Linked DNA regions of Homo sapiens: region 2 is linked to region 1. The links come from fine-mapping of genetic effects on gene expression. A gene starts in region 1. The other region holds a variant in brackets. All regions are shown on one strand. Distances are between the middles of the regions. Region 1 holds the start of TEX14 (testis expressed 14, intercellular bridge forming factor). Region 2 overlaps PRR11 (proline rich 11).

The links.
Region 2: its variant is fine-mapped to the expression of TEX14 in whole blood (TOPMed, PIP above 0.99).

What each region holds. Positions count from the first base shown.
Region 1 is chr17:58,687,824-58,696,160 of GRCh38, reverse strand. TEX14 (testis expressed 14, intercellular bridge forming factor) reads left to right here and starts at 4,116. Exons shown (of 32, transcript NM_031272.5): 1 at 4,116-4,222. It overlaps IGBP1C (IGBP1 family member C), which reads left to right and starts at 4,116. Exons shown (of 2, transcript NM_001395966.1): 1 at 4,116-4,222. RAD51C (RAD51 paralog C) reads right to left here and starts at 3,559. Exons shown (of 9, transcript NM_058216.3): 1 at 3,373-3,559; 2 at 972-1,230. The coding sequence starts at 3,517. RefSeq lists enhancers at 3,202-3,371, 3,702-3,801.
Region 2 is chr17:59,156,770-59,165,106 of GRCh38, reverse strand. All of the region lies in intron 1 of PRR11 (proline rich 11), which reads right to left. Among named protein-coding and RNA genes, the nearest start is that of PRR11, 5.2 kb to the right of the region's middle. RefSeq lists an enhancer at 5,676-6,875. The variant C/T (reference allele first, on the strand shown) is at 4,015.

The DNA.
Region 1 (8,337 bases):
GCGCCCAGCCAATTAAGAATATTTTAATCATTTCCAGGCCTCTCAAAATGGAGCCCCTTATTATACATAAATCTACCTTTTTTTTTTTTCTTTTGAGACAGAGTCTTGCTCTGTCACCCAAGCTGGAGTGCAGTGGCATGATCTCGGCTCACTGCAACCTCCACCTCCCAAGTACAAGCGATTCTCCTGCCTCAGCCTCCCGAGGAGCTGAGACTATAGGCGTGAACCACCATGCCTGGCTAATTTTTTTATTTTTAGTAGAGATGGGGTTTCGCCATGTTGACTAGGCTGGTCTTGAACTCCTGATCTCAGGTGATCCACCCGCCTCAGCCTCCCAAAGTGCTGGGATTACAGGTGTGAGCCACCATCCCCGGCCTCTTTTTTTTTTGAGATAGGGTCTCACTCTGCTGCCCAGTGATGTGATTAAGGCTCACTGCAGTTTTGACCTCCCCGGCTCAAGCTATCCTCCTGCCTCAGCCTCCCAAGTAGCTAGGACCACAGGCATGTGCCACCACACTCAGCTAATTTTCCATTTTTAGTAGAGACGAGGTCTCACTATGTTGCCCAGGCAGGCCTCAAACTCCTGGGCTCAAGCAATCCTCCTGCCTCGGCCTCCCAAAGTGCTGGGATTATAGGCATGAGCCACTACCCCTAGCCATAAATCTACTTTCAAACATCTGACTTTCAAATATAGTCTCAGGAATGAATAACGCAGAAACTTCCTGTTTAACCTTATGACTGCAGTACAATTTGCAAAAGAAACACTTTTTCACATCAGAATAATTGCATACATTTATCAAGAAGGGATAATGAAGTAACACAAATAGTAAGCTAATTTTTGTTTAATGCACATACACACTTAAAATTAAGAGCACATATATATCTTATTTGGTTTCCTGACGATAGTACAAAATACTACTTTCATAATATGTTATTAAACCCACCCTTAAAAGGAGAACACTTTATTTTACCATAATTGTGTTTTTCCAACACCTGGTGCACCACAAATTTCTGTTGTTTTCATTAAGGGCACTCCACCCCCAAGAATATCATCTAGTGCTGAACAGAAGGTGATTATGAAGCCCTGGGTATGCTCCTGCTCAAGAAGTTCCAGTGCTGTACACTTCTTGTGTGACTCAGATGTACCAGCATATCTTGGTTTATTTGTGAGACATTCTCTTCTGATAATTTGCAGAGTTTCTAAGGCTTCTGCTTTAGATATCCCAACTTCTGAAAGTAAAATAAGAAAAAAAGAACCCTAATTTTAGAGATTTAAAAGTGTAACATGATAATCGATTGTCTTTATTAATTTGTAGACAACAGTGATGCTAGGAGTGGAGAAACATAAAAATGCAACATTCTATCAACCATTTAATTTTTCAGTTTGGCCGGACACAGTGGCTCATGCCTAAAATCCCAGTACTTTGGGAGGCTGAGGCAGCCAGATCACCTGAGGTCAGGAGTTGAAGACCAGCCTGGCCAACATGGTGAAACTCCGTCTCTACTAAAAATACAAAAATTAGCCGGGCATGGTGGCACGCGTTATAATTCCAGCTACTTGGGAGGCTGAGGCAGGACAATCACTTGAACCTGCACCACTGCACTCCAGCCTGGATCGCACCACTGCATTCCAGCCTGGATGACAGTGCGAGACTCCGTCTCAAAAAAAAAAAAAAAAAAATTCAGCTTAATAAAGGTATTCGTTTTCTTAGTCATCACATAAAGAATTACCTATTACCTCAGAAACAATTCAACTAAAGCATTTCTGAGTACCTACAAGTGTCTCAGGAAGCAGAAATAAAAATGTACTCACTATTACCATATTTTTACTATCCCTTTTGGTCTTATGAAGCCATAATTATCTCGCTCTCATAAGGTATACAAATTATTTTTCAGATGAGAATGAAAATAGATGTTTTAACTGCCTAAAACAAGGTACAACTTTAAGAAGCACATATGCATGTATTATTTATAATAAAAACTTTTCATGGAAATAACTGATGTAAAAAATTCATGTATCACTCCAAACTAATGAGAACAATTATTCAAGGCACAAGCATTTTAAAGAATACATTTATGCTTCCTCGACTACACAATTTCACCCATCTGACAGTGTGGCCTGAGAAAAGAAAATGGCAATTACAAAACAAGCTGGTGAAGAAATAATGGTGAGGATGACATCACTTATCAGTTTGATATATCAGTGCTTGATCTGATAAGAATATGAGCCATAAATATGGGGCTAATAAAAGACAATGGTGATGACAGCATTTAGGAAATGAAAATCCTATCAAGAGCCTGAATGCTGGAATTAGATTGCCTGGGTTTGTAAATCCTGGCACCACTTACTGCATGACTTTGGGCAAGTTACTTCACTTTTTCTTTTTTGCTCAGATTTTTTTCGTCTATAAAATGGGAATGAGACGATACATGTAAAAAGCTTGGTAGAATATCAAGACCATCTAAAGTAGTCAATAGTTGTTAGTGATCATTATTATTCAGGGTCTCACATTTCTTCTTTGAAAAGCCAACTTGTTGAAGAAAAAAGAGCCCATCAAATCTTGGGGGACACAGTCTGCGCGCGGTATGACTTAAACAGTTAAGGCTGGGTCCACGAGACTTATTCTTTAGAGGCGAATTGAAACCTCTGTATTTTCCATCAGTAAGGGCAGTAACTTAAAATTCTGTTCCATCTTCTTCAGTGAATAGCACAGGTCCAGACATGTCATAGAGAGATGTGCACAACAAGTGACCACCGCCAGCCTCATATTTGTATGTCTCAGGATGCAGTGGTTCCCATCTGCAATGCTCTGGAATATGAGGTTTTGGGTGTTTCAGTTAATTACGTAAGAGAATATTCTTTCTATGCTTCCTCAAGATTCCGGGGATTCTACTCTCTTTCTCATTCTTAGTGTCTCTAGTCCTACACAAAATCCTGCATTTCTGAAATTTAACCCTTACCCCTTGGATCTTGGAACAGCAAAAATTAGACAACCAATTCTGACTCCAGTATTTCCTAACCCAGTTAGCATGAAAAGTTACCTAAGCTCCCCAAGATATCAGTTCTCTCATCCATATACTGAATATAATAATCTACGTAAGCGGGTTGAGGGTTAAATGAGACAATCCTCAAAGCATTCAGCAGGCATTGCCAGAGGAAAAGCAATTAGTAAATGTTTTCACGACCACAGTTCTCCTAACCATTCAGACAACTTGTAAGTGGAGTCGAGGAGCTCTTTCACGCTGTAAACATGGACGTGGGAGGAAGCAGAATCTAACGGAGACTGGGCTGAAGGCCGAGGCGAGAGAACGAAGACTGAGGCGGCGCTGACGGCGGCCGGTGTGCCTCAGCTTGCCATCAGGAGTCGTTACCTTTGCTAAGCTCGGAGGGTTTCACCTCTAGGAGTTCCTCAGCAGTCTGGAACCCCGCAGACACCAGCTTCACCCGCACCGCTGGAGACAGCGGGAAACTCACCAAATCCCGCTGCATTTCAAAGCGGAACGTCTTCCCGCGCATCGCAGGCTCACCTGCTAACCCCGGAGCAGCCAAACTCCGCACGCCCTCGCTGGGGCGTGCGGCGTGACGTCAGACGTAAAGCGGAAGGGGCCGGCTCTGCGGCCTGGCCGCACGGGGCTCCGGGCCTTGCAGCTTTGCGCAGTCTTGTAAATTTTCACACTTATGCACCATTCCGTTTTGATTCCCCAAAATCCCATTTAGAGATTCCTCATCAAATGTACACCCTGACTGTAAAACGATGGACGGAGACCATAGGACGGAGAGCCAGGCCCAGTGGGTTCTCCACGCCACATTTCCTTGCCTCCACCGTGGCCTGTTAGGTGAAGCCTCAGAGTCATTAATAGGAATGATCTCGAGTGGGAGTAGTGAGCGTAACGGGCACACACTAGCCAGTTACCATTATTTTGGTGTGAAAAGCTCAGGGAACAATCATTAGAATTAATCTGCGTGCTCTTTGTAGAGTTGCAGTCTCTTGGCTCTTCCCGCTGACCGTCCCCCTTTTCTGACCCCCCCCCCCCGCAACGACCACATTGCTTTTCCCGCCCTCGCGAGGGATTGTGGGCCAGCCCCCAACGGCCGCTGGGAGGGATCAGTCCGCATTCCCCGCACCCACCCACGTCTTCCCGGGAGTCGTATCCCGAGCATGGAGGTTACTGAGACCGTTATTTCTTCATGGCCTGCCTAGCTTAAGCAGTAGCTGGAAAAGTAAGCAACTAATGTCCCCATTAGTGTGTCTGGGCTCCTGGGGTCCTGAGAAGGAGGGGCTGGGCTACACAAGAGCTCCTTTTGTGGTACAGACTTGGGAAGGGGTGTTCAAGCAGTGGTAGTGACCGCCTCTAAATTACAGAACTTCGGGGAGGAAGGCAAGCAGTTTAGAAGGTGGTTTATGAGTTCCTTCCTTGCCTAGGTGAGTGTAACTTATTTAGCAGGGGGTAACTTATTCCCTACCTATTGGCGATTTTTTTTTTTTTTTTTTTGAGACAGAGTCTCACTGTGTTGCCCATGATGGAGTGCAGTGGCACGATGTCGGCTCACTGCAACCTTCGCCTCCCGGGTTCAAGTGAGTCTCCTGCCTCAGCCTCTTGAGTACCTGGGATTACAGGCGCACGCCACCATGCCCGGCTAATTTTTGTATTATTATTAGAGAAGGGGTTTCACCATATTGGCCAGGCTGGTCTCGAACTCCTGACCTCGTGATCCGCCTGCCTCGGCCTCCCAAAATGCTGGGAGTACAGGCGTGAGCCACCGCGCCCGGCCCTGTTGGCAATGATTCTTAGTCTTGACTTTTCTTCCCAGCTTAGAAGAACTTTCTAAATATTGCAAATCAGAGCCCTCTACATACTTAGATCTAAAAAAGGAAACAACGTATGTTGAGCACTTTAGCAAATCCCACACATTTCAAATGGCCATAGCCATGCCAAAAGGAAGATAAGGACATGGAAGCTCAGCATATAGTTTAATATCAATTCTGATAAAAGAAAAAAAGCTGGCCGGGCGCAGTGGCTCGTGCCTGTAATCCCAGCACTTTGGGAGGTCGAGGCAGGTGGATCTCTTTGAGCTCATGAGTTTGAGACCAGCCTCGACAACATGGCGAAACACTGTCTGTACCAAAAGTACAAAAAATTAGCCGGGCATGGTGGCATGCACCGGTCGTCCCAGCTACTCAGAAGTCTGTGGTGGGAGGATCCCTTCAGCCTGGGAGTGAGCTATGATCACGCCACTGCACTCCAGCTTGGGTGATAGAGTGAAACCCTGTCTCAAACAAACAAAACACCTCAGCACAGTTTTCTTAAAGCCAAGATTCAAACCTAGCATCCTTTTTACTACCCCGAGCTATTAAGATTTTGAGTCCCTACTGGCGGGGAGAATACGAGAAGCATTTATACCCCATTTGGTAGGTCAAAGAAAGTCTTGTAGGACTGGCCAAAATGTGGTTGGCCACTCAACCCATTGCTTAACTTCTAATATGGTCTATATTTGAGCGCTCAGTGGATGCATAAATACTATCTTCAGGGAGATTTCATGCTTATGCTTATAAAGCACCCAGATTCTTGGGTGAAGAAAAAACATGGTATTACCACATTCAACAATAAGTCTTCAGTTAGTTTGGTCAAACTCAGTGGAATCAGTCGTGTTTAGAATTTCTTTCGTTGACAGTGGAAAGTTCAAAACTACTTTGGCCTGGCACAGTGGCTTAAGCCTGGAATCCAAGCACTTTGGGAGGCCAAAGAGGGCACATCGCTTGATCTCAGGAGTTTGAGACCAGCCTGGGCAACAGGGCAAAACCCCATCTCTACAAAAAATACAAAAATTAGCCAGCATGGTGGTACATGCCTCTAGTCCCAGCTACTTGGGAGGCTGAGGTGGGAGAACCAATTGAGCCCGGGAGGTTGAGGTTGCAGTGAGCTGAGATTGCGTAACTCCACTCCAATCTGGGCGACAGAGCGAGACTCCATCTCAAAAACAAAACAAAGCAAAATAAAAAAAACAAAAAAACCCCCACTCAACTCTATCTATAGCTGTATAATTTAAGTGCTATTAATATCTTCTGCAGATCACAAGGTCAGGAGATCGAGACCATCCTGGCTAACATGATGAAACCCCGTCTCTACTAAAAATACAAAAAATTAGCTGGGTGCGGTGGTGGGCGCCTGTAGTCCCAGCTACTCGGGAGGCTGAGGCAGGAGAATTGCATGAACCCAGGAGGCGGAGCTTGCAGTGAGCCTAGATCACGCCACCACATTCCAGCCTGGGCGACAGAGCGAGACTCCATCTCAGAAAAAAAAAAAAAAAAAATCTTCTGGCCCTTGCCTATAATAATTATTTTCATCATCATTCTTAAGATGTCTTTAATGCAATTTGCTCTGTAGTCATGCTTTCAAACTGGGATCCAGGTTTTTGAAACCACGCACTAGGAACTAAACAAAGCTATGGGATAAATATGGAAGGTGCACCTTCTTGTGTAATCACTTTTCTCAAAAAAAATCTTTCAGGGAGGGAAGAGTTAAATGATTTACCTAAGTCATTTGAAATGGTTTATATTAAGCAGACATTACATCTGTGTAGTGTGGATAAATCATTAAAATTTTTGAAAAAGAAAATAAACTTTAATAAAACATGGGGTAGGCCGGGCACGGTGGCTCACTCCTGTAATCCTAGCACTTTGGGAGGCCAAGGCGGGTGGATCATGAGGTCAAGAGATCAAGACCATCCTGGCCAACATGACGAAACCCTGTCTCTACTAAAAACACAAAAATTAGCTGGGCATGTTGATGTGTGCCTATAGTCCCAGCTACTTAGGAGGCTGAGGCAGGAGAATAGCTTGAACCCAGGAGGCAGAGGTTGCAGTGAGTGAGATCAGGCCACTGCACTCTAGCCTGGAAACAGAGAGAGACTCCCTCTAAAAATAAATAAATTAGCTGAGCGTGATGTCTCACGCCTGTTTCACAGCACTTTGGGAGGCCGAGGTGGGCGGATCACGAGATCAGGAGATAGACTATCCTGGCTAACACGGTGAAACCCCATCTCTACTAAAAATACAAAAAATTAGCCGGGTGTGGTGGCAGGCACCTGTAGTCCCAGCTACTTGGGAGGCTGAGGCAGGAGAATGGTGTGAACCCGGGAGGCAGAGCTTGCAGTGAGCCAAGATCATGCCACTGCACTCCAGCCTCTGTGACAGAGCGAGACTCCATCTCAAAAAAAAATATATGTATAGAAATAAAAACAAAATGTGGGGGTAAAATGCAAATATAAAAATAAAATTTAAGAGAAAAGTATGAGGTCAGAGACACATCAGGCTTAAACTGGATACTTCAGTAATCTCCCAAACCCCCCCCGGGAATATGTTTTGGTTTTTCTTGCAACTTGAGGTTACTTCATGAAAAAATTTGAGAGACATTGCTATGGGCAAACCAGCATGGGCTGCGGAGTCACACAGATTTGGATTTGTATCACATGTCTGGAAGTTACCAACTATGTGACCTTCAGCAAGTTACTCAGTCTCCTCACCTGCAAGTAGAAGATAATATCTCCTGGGGTTTTGGTCAAGATTAAATTAACACATATACAGTACTTATCACACAAAAAAGTACATAATAAATCTGAGTCTGTTTCTCAGTTTTTACAGCATTCTAATGCGCATATTCAGTTGGAATAAATCCTTATAGAATACCTAGCTCAGCAGAATGCTAATGCTGAGACGTTTTTTAAAAATGTTTACAATTAGGCCAGACACTGTGGCTCACACCTGTAATCCCATCACTTTAGGAGGCTGAGGCTGGCAGATCACTTGAGGTCAGGAGTTCAAGACCAGCCTGGGCGATGTGGTAAAACCCCGTCTCTACTAAAAATACAAAATTAACTGGGGGTGGTGGAGGGTACCTATAGTCCCAGCTATTTGGAAGGCTGAGGCAGGAGAATTGCTGGAACATGGGAGGCAGAGATTGCAGTGAGCCGATATTATGACACTGTACTCCAGCCTGGGCGACAAGAGGAAAACTCAGTCTCAAAAACAAAACAAAACAAAAAAAGTCTATAATTGTAAAAGTGCCGAAGTAGAGTACTTTTATATATTTTATTTTCTTTGACTTGATCCACAGTAATCCTATGACTGGGGTCTACATTCAGGATTAGCACTCTGAAGACTAGATCACTAAAACAAGATTAAATATTGATTAAATGCTAGTTATGTGCCAGATGACAGGGTAAACAAGATAGATTCTCTGCCCTCATGGAGCTTATAATCTATCAGGATCTTTATTGAGTATTTCTGACATGTTGCATTTCTGACTTGTGTAGCTATCTTGATGTAATTCTAAGGG
Region 2 (8,337 bases), 470 kb before region 1:
GGAGCTTGCAGTGAGCCGAGACTGAGCCACTGCACTCTAGCGTGGGCGACGGAGCGAGACTCTGTCTCAAAAACAAAACAAAACAAAAAAACAAAACAAAAACGCAAGATAAAAATACTCTGATGAAGATATTTAGGAGAGCCTCCTAGGAAGGAGCGATCTTGTGGCTGCCTGAAGAAAAAAGGTTACATTTCATCAAATCTATGGTCAGGACCTTTTTTTTTTTTTGAGACACGGTCTTGCTCTGTCGTGCAGGCTGGAATGCAGTGGCATGATCTTGGCTCACTGCAGCCTCCTCCTCCCAGGTTGAAGCGATTCTCCTGCCTCCGCTTCCGGAGTAGCTGGGATTACAGGCGCGCGCCACCATGCCCGGCTAATTTTTAAAATTTATTTATTTTTAGTAGAGATGGGGTTTCACCATGTTGGCCAGGCTGGTCTTGAAGTCCTGTACGGCCAGGACCTTCTATAGACAAATGCCACTGGAAACTTCTATCTAAGGCTGAGTCCACTGATTGGGAGCCCTAGAATCCGAAATTTCCTAGCATCTTCCTTTTCTTTGTCTTCCATCTGATCCTTCACAGTCCTCCCCCATTCTTTTTCTGTTGCCCAGGCTGGTCTTAAACTCCTGTGCTCAAGCAGTCCTCCTACCTCAGCCTCCCAAAGTGCTGGGATTACAGAAATGAGCCACTACGCCCGGCCCCATCATAGAATTCTATATTAGGCCAAACTTTCAGTCAGGTGTGAGGAAAGAATTAAGATAAAAGATAAGAATTTTCAGGATAATGGTGATAAAAAAATCTAGGGGAAACAGCTTTGAGCAAGCTTAGGACAGGGGTCAACAAACCTTTTTTGTAAAGAACCAGAAAGTAAATATTTCAGGTTTTGCAGGCCATATGGTCTCTGCTGCAACTGCTCAACCCTGCCAGGGTAGCACCAAGGCAGTCATAGACAATACTCAAGCAAAGGAGCTGTGTCTAATAAAATTTTATTTATGACTGAAATTTGAATTTCATATACTTTTATGTTTTTCTTTTTTTTAAGATGGAGTCTCACTCTGTCGCCCAGGCTGGAGTGCAGTGGCATGATCTCAGCTCACTGCAACCTCCGCCCACCCCCCAAGTTCAAGTGATTCTCCTGCCTCAGCCTCCTGAGTAGTTGGGATTACAGGCGCCTGCCACGGCGCCAGGCTAAGTTTTGTATTTTTAGTAGAGACGGGGTTTCCCCATCTTGGCCAGGCTGGTCTTGAACTCCTGACGTCGAGATCCATCAGCCTTGGCCTCCCAAAGTGCTGGGATTACAGGCATGAGCCACTGCGCCCGGCCAAATTTGATATACTTTTCATGTGTCACAAAATATTGTTCCTCTTTTGATTTTTTTTTAACTGTTAGAAGTTATAAATCATTCTTAGCTCACAAGCTCTATAAAAGCAGTAGTTTGCTGACCTGAGGCTCACAGCCAGTGAAGACTGCCGCAGAAGGACAGGACAGAGGGCTTCAGCAACAATGTCTCTAAGGAAAAACGGAAATAGATAAACTGCCTAGTGTGTTTGACCATTCTGAGCAGAGTTTTACTGTTCTGTAAACTTGTGGCCAAATTGCTGGTAAGTGCTTAAAAAAATAAGCATATAAAAAATAGCTAGGAAAAAAGTTGTATAAGAAAGGAAATGTAATCTTAGTAGCACTAAATGTTAAGCTGTTAAACAATATTTAAAGTATAAGCATTGGCTGGGCATGGTGGCTCATGCCTATAATCCCAGCACTTTGGGAGGCCGGGAGGCAGGAGGATCACCTGAGGTCCCGAGTTTGAGACCAGCCTGGCCAACAGGGCAAAAGCCTGTCTCTACCAAAAATACAAAATTTAGCCAGGCATGTGGCTGTAGTCCCAGCTATCTGGGAGGCTGAGGCAGGAGAATCTCTTGAACCCGGGAGGCAGAGGTTGCAGTGAGCCGAGATTGTGCCACTGCACTCCAGCCTGGGCAATAGAACGAGAGTCCATCTAAAAAAAAAAAGTATAAGCATTGACAATTTATTTAACCAAAAATGATGATGTAGGTATACTAGGAAGAAGGAGAGAAAGTGGGCCAGGTGTGGTGGCTCATGCCTGTAACCCAGCACTTTGAGAGGCTGAGGCAGGCAGATCACCTGAGGTCGGGAGTTCAAGACCAGCCTGACCAACATGGAGAAATGCCATCTCTACTAAAAAAATACAAAAATTAGCCGGGCGTGGTGGTGCATGCCAGTAATCCCAGCTACTTGGAGGCTGAGGCAGAAGAATCGTTTGAACCCAGGAGGTGGAGGTTGCGGTGAGCCGAGATCGTGCCATTGCACTCCAGCCTGGGCAACAAGAGTGAAACTCTGTCTCAAAAAAAAAAAAAAAAAAAGGGAGAGAAAGTGAATGGAAGTCAGTATTTGTCTAAATTTATATAGTGCCTACACTTGAAAAAAAAATCATGAAATAATAGTATGAATGTTACTTAGAAATATGGAGGTAAATACCAGAAGAAATAATTACAAGACTTAATAGTGTTGCCTCTGACAATTGGGAGTCAGGATTACAGAGGGGTGGTTTAAACTGGACTGCTATTTTTTTTTGTTATTTCTTTCTAATTCTAATAAGGCTTGTATTGTATTTGACTTTCAAACTTTGGTATGTACCATTAGCTGGAAAATTTGAGTACCACCATTCTGAAACAGGGCCATTTCTTTCTAGTCCTTTCCTGTTGGCTGTTCCAGTGTCTATGCATACAAATTTCTAGAGTCCTACACAAGCCAATGTCTGTCATTTTGGGAATTATTTTTCAATGATAAAGATGTCTAGGAACTAAGTCATATTTCTTTCTCTCTCTCTCTCTCTCTCTGTGTGTGTGTGTGTGTGTGTGTGTGTGTGTGTGTGTCTGACTTGGGTTATTAGTGCTTCTATCTAATCTCCTTCTAATTAAATACAGTAATTGGCACATGCAGAGGATTAAGGAACCATGCAAAATCTGTCAGGGTAGAAAGATGCAGTCTGAGATAATTCCTAGATAGTTAGTTGTTCCATCCAAAAATAATCACAGCTCTTGCGAAAGTGGAGAATAGCAAATTTCTACCTCAGTCAAAACAAGAACACAAAAAATTAAGGTTTGTTTTAGTATCATTACTTAATTAAAAGCATTAGGTACTTTCCAGAGGATAATTGCCCAAATTGAAAGAGTATATAGCAGTCTTCCTTTAGCTTAAAATACGTATACTTATCCCCTTTCCAAAAGCATAATGAGACCTACAAATTCTTTTTGCTGGATTAGGTGGGATTTTAATTGTTAACACTGAATAGAAGCTCATTCTTTTGTGATTCCTTAAAGCATTTTTCCTTTTGTTTTGAGACAGGTTCTTGCTCTGTTGCCCACGCTGGATTGCAGTGGTGTGATCTCAGCTCTCTGCAGCTTTGACCTCCTGGACTCAAGCAATCCTCCTGCCTCAGCCTCCTGAGTAGTTGGAACTACAAGGGCGTACCACCATGCCCAGCTGGTTTTTTTATTTTTAGTTGAGACAGGGTTTCACCATGTTGCCTAGGTGGTCTCAAACTCCTGAGCTCAAGCAATTTACTGGCCTTGGCCTCCCAGAGTGGTGAAATTACAGGTGTGAGCCACTGTACTCGGCCCTTATGTTTTGTGTGTGTGTTTTTTTTTTTGTTTTATGTTTTTGTTTTTTTTTTTTTGAGACGGAGTCTCGCTCTGTTGCCTGGCCAGGCTGGAGTGCAGTGGCATGATCTCGGTTCACTGCAACCTCTGCCTCCCGAGTTCAAGCGATTCTCCTGCCTCAGTCTCCCGAGTAGCTGGGACTACAGGCACACACTACCACGCCCAGCTAATTTTTGTATTTTTAGTAGAGATGGGGTTTCGCCATGTTGGCCTGGCTGGTCTTGAACTGCTGACCTCAGGTTATCCGCCTCCCTCGGCCTCCCAAAGTACTAGGATTATAGGCATGAGCCACCATGCCTGGCCTATGTATTTTTTAAACTAGTTTTTTTCTTACA[C/T]TGCTTTCTCAAATAATCTGAAAAATCATTAGAAACATAAACATATAGGCAAAGGGCGGTGGTTCAAAGTGCTGTAATCCCCAGCACTTTGGGAGGCTGAGGTGGAGGTGGGAGGATGCCTTTAGCCCAGGAGTTTGAGACCACTCTGGGCAACACAGTGAGAGTCCCAACTGTATGAAAAAAAGAAAAAAAAAAAATCCTGGCGTGGTGGCTCACCTATAGTCCTAGCCACTCTGAAGGGTGAGGCGGGAGGCTCACGTGAGCACAGGAGCTTGAGGCTGCAGTGACCCATGACTGCGCCACTGTACTCCAGCCTGGAACACAGAGCGAGAAACTGTTTCCAAAAAAAAGAAAAAAACAACATAAATATCCTAAATAACTCTATGATCTCTAGAAATTACTCTCATTTTTACTTACATCTTCTTTTCATTAAGAAAAGATTTCTAGGCTAAGGAACCAGCAAACTGGTACATCTGGAGCTCTTGATAACAAATCAAACAATAATAAAGGTCATATTATAGGCCGTGCATGGTGGCTCACGCCTGTAATTCCAGCACTTTGGGAGGCCAAGGTGGGTGGATGGATCACTTGAGGTCAAGTTCGAGACCAGACTGGCAAACACAGTGAAACCCCATTTCTACTAAAAATATAAAAATTGGAATGAGGTTCAGTCTAAGAAAAAACCCCCAAACCAAAACCGAAACCAACCAACCAAACAAACAAACAACAAGAGGAAGTATACTGTAGGGGTTAAGGATGAGGACCAGGGAGTTATACTGCATAGGTTCAAATCATGGCTCTACTATACTGTCATAACTTATTTATGACCTTCAAGAGATTCTTAGCCTTTCTGTGTCAGTTTCCTCCCCTGTGAAATAATAATATTAATAGGAACTTACTTCAGAGTTTTGAGGAGTACATGAGTAAATCATGTAAAGTATTTACAGTGCCTGGCAGGCAATAAGTTTTATCATTATTATCATTATTATTCTTTGATTCTTTTTTTTTTGCTGCTTGAGATTACTATATCAGATTTTTTAAAATACAAGTTTAATTCAACAACATATAGTGATAACTTGCTATGAAAATGAATAAGACACATTCCTGCCCTCCAAGAGTTTACAGTGGGGAGAGATGGGTAAGCAGAAAGTAAACAGGTATACAATAGTGTATGGGTTATGATGGGATATGTATATGATATTAATGGAGAAATAAAGCAAGGGTACATAATTCTCCCATAAGGGTTGAGGTTTTTGGAAAAGGTTTTGCCTAAGCTGAGCTTTGATGAAGGGGCTAGGTTAAGGTGGGCCTAGGGAGGACTCATCCCATCAGAGGGAATAACATGGAAACATTTCAGAGAAAGGTATGTCAGGGGATTCAGACAAGACTCAGTGTGACTAAAGCATATCCTGCAACGTAAAGTTTTGTCAGGGGGCAATGAGTGATGAAGCTGGAGGGTGGATAAGGACCAAGACATCAGAAACAATAATGGATTTTAAGCAGATAATTGTCATGCTCGTATTTCTTCTTTAGAAAGAATGGTTTGGCAGCATCGTGGAAATTGGATTTATGGGACCATGACTGAAGACAAAGAGACCACTTACAAACCTACTGCAACTGTCTAGGGGATGAGGACCTGATTATAGGAGCGACAGTAGGGTATCTAAATACATCTAACTGCTTATGTTCTATGTTCAAAGTCAGAAGTTCAGGGGAAAGACACTAGAGAAATACTGCACTCATAAGTGTATAGGTAGCTTGAGAAAATAACAACACTAGAAATGAGTGAAATTACCCAGAGAAATATGTGGAGTGAAAAGATCTATGAGCTGATTACCAAACTTTGAGAAACACCATGTATAAGGAGTGGGTAGAGAAAGAACTAGAAAAGGCATGGCCAGGAAGGTGAAAAGAATGCAGAGACAATGGAGCTCCTATTGGAGTAGAGGGTTATAAAAAAAGAGGGTGTGGGAGGCTGGGTGCGGTGGCTCACACCTGTAATCCCAGCACTTTGGGAGACTGAGGTGGGTGGATCACCTGAGGTCAGGAGTTCGAGACCAGCCTGACCAACAGGGTGAAACCCTGTCTCTACTGAAAATAGAAAAATTAGCCAGGTGTGGTGGAGTGTGCTGTAATCCCAGCTACGCGGGAGGCTGAGGCATTAGAATCACTTGAATCTAGGAGGTGGAGGTTGCAGTGAGCCAAGATCACGCCACTGCACTGGGTGCACACCACACCTGGGTGTGGGCCAATGTGAGTATGAATCAGAAATATTTCTCTGATTAATTTACCCTGTCTCTTCTCCTTACCATCCCCCTCCGTTCTGTCCTCTAACTTCAGTTGCCTTCACTTTTTTCATTTTTGTCTTTCACTATTGTCTATTTTCCTTTACTGTTTTTACTTAGAAAAATTTCAAGGCTCCAGGAAATAAAAAATTTACAATAGTATAATAAGCACTCATATACAGTTCACCTAGATTTACCAATTGTCAATTGCCGTCTTTGTACACACACTCTTTCTGTACGTATGTACAAATATATACATACATAAATTTTTTTAGTTTTGGATTGAATAGATTTAGTTGCAGACATCATGATACTTTACTCTTAGATACTTTAGCTTTTGTTTTCTAACATAAACATGGAAATTTTCCAACAAAACCACAATCAGTCAGGAAATTTAACCTTGTTATGAAATGATCTAATAAACAGCCCATATTCGGATTGCCCCAATTGTCTCAATATCCCTTATAGCTTCTCCCACCCTGGTTCCACATGCATTTAGCAGTAGTGTCTCTTTAGTACCCTTTAATTCATAACAATTCTCCAGCTTTTTTATTTATGTATTTGCTTCTTCATATTTATAATTTTGAAGAGTCCAAGTCAGTCGTTTTGGAGAATGTTTCTTAGTTTGGGTTTGCTGAGTGTTCCTTCAATGATTCTCCTGCCTTCAGTCTTTCTCCTTGCCAGTTCATTTTCCATACCAGAACTGATACTTTAAAACAAAATGAGATCTAGATATTCCCTTGCTTAAAAGTATTTGAAGGTTCCTTTACTCACAAAATTAAATTCCTTAGCATGCCTTTCAAAACTTTTCACAACTTAGCTCTAATGGCCCTTTGCCATAGTCTCTTCTAGTGACTAGCGGTTTGTACTTCCAGGTATACTAAACACCAAATACTTTCTGTTTCTTTCTATCAGCCTTTCCTTCTGTTTAGAGTATCCTCTTCCAAGTCAACTTATACCTAGCCTTCAAGATTCTGTTATTTTATCTTATAGATATTAGTTGAGTGCTTATAATCCACCAAGTACTATGCTAGGTGCTGGCATACAATCCTGAACAACACCAACATAGTCTTTGTCCTTCTAGAATTTTTTTTTTTTTGGGGGGGTGGACAGAGTCTCGCTCTGTCACCCGGGCTGGAGTGCAGTGGTGTGATCTCAGCTCAATGCCACCTCCACCTCCTGGGTTCAAGCGATTATCCTGCTTCAGCCTCTTGAGCACCTGGGATTATAGGGGCGTGCCACCACACCCGGATAATTTTTGTATTTTTAGTAGAGATGGGATTTTGCCATGTTGGCCAGGCTGGTCTTGAACTCCTTACCTCAAGTGATCCGCCCGCTTCATCCTCCCAGAGTGCTGGGATTACAGGTGTGAGGCACCATGCCCAGCCTCCTTACAGAATTTATACTGGCTGAAATGTCATCTCTTTTGCACTTCTATAGCACTTTATACACATCTTTATTATAAAATGTATTACATTTCATTGTAATTTTTGCTTGTATGTTTGTCATCCTGCTGGACTGTGAGCTTTTCAAGGGTGTGACAAATTTCATTCATCTTTGTTTTCCCAGCATCTAGAATACAGCAGGAGCTAAATAATGTTTCATTCAATAAAGAATGAAAAGAAGCATTCCTGCTAAGTGTTAGCTAGCAAGTGTTATTTTAGTTAAGGAATATATTCTAATATTGTCAAATTCTCTTGGTTAGGGAGGTTTTTACTTCTTCATATCATACCACATCTTCATATGGCTAAAAGATGGGTCTAAAGCTATTTTCCAATAGGAAGATGCAATAAATAATACAGTAAGAATTACAGTCTTTTGCAGGAGTTGGCGCTGCTGCTTCTGTGAAAACTCCACCCAATGATATGAAAAGTTCTTTGCGGCCGAGCGTGGTGGCTCACGCCTGTAATCCCAGCACTTTGGGAGGCTGAGGCTGGTGGATCACGAGGTCAGGAAATCGAGACCATCCTGGCCAAGAGGGTGAAACCCCGTCTCTACTAAAAATACAAAAATTAGCCGGGCGTGCTGGCGTGCGCCT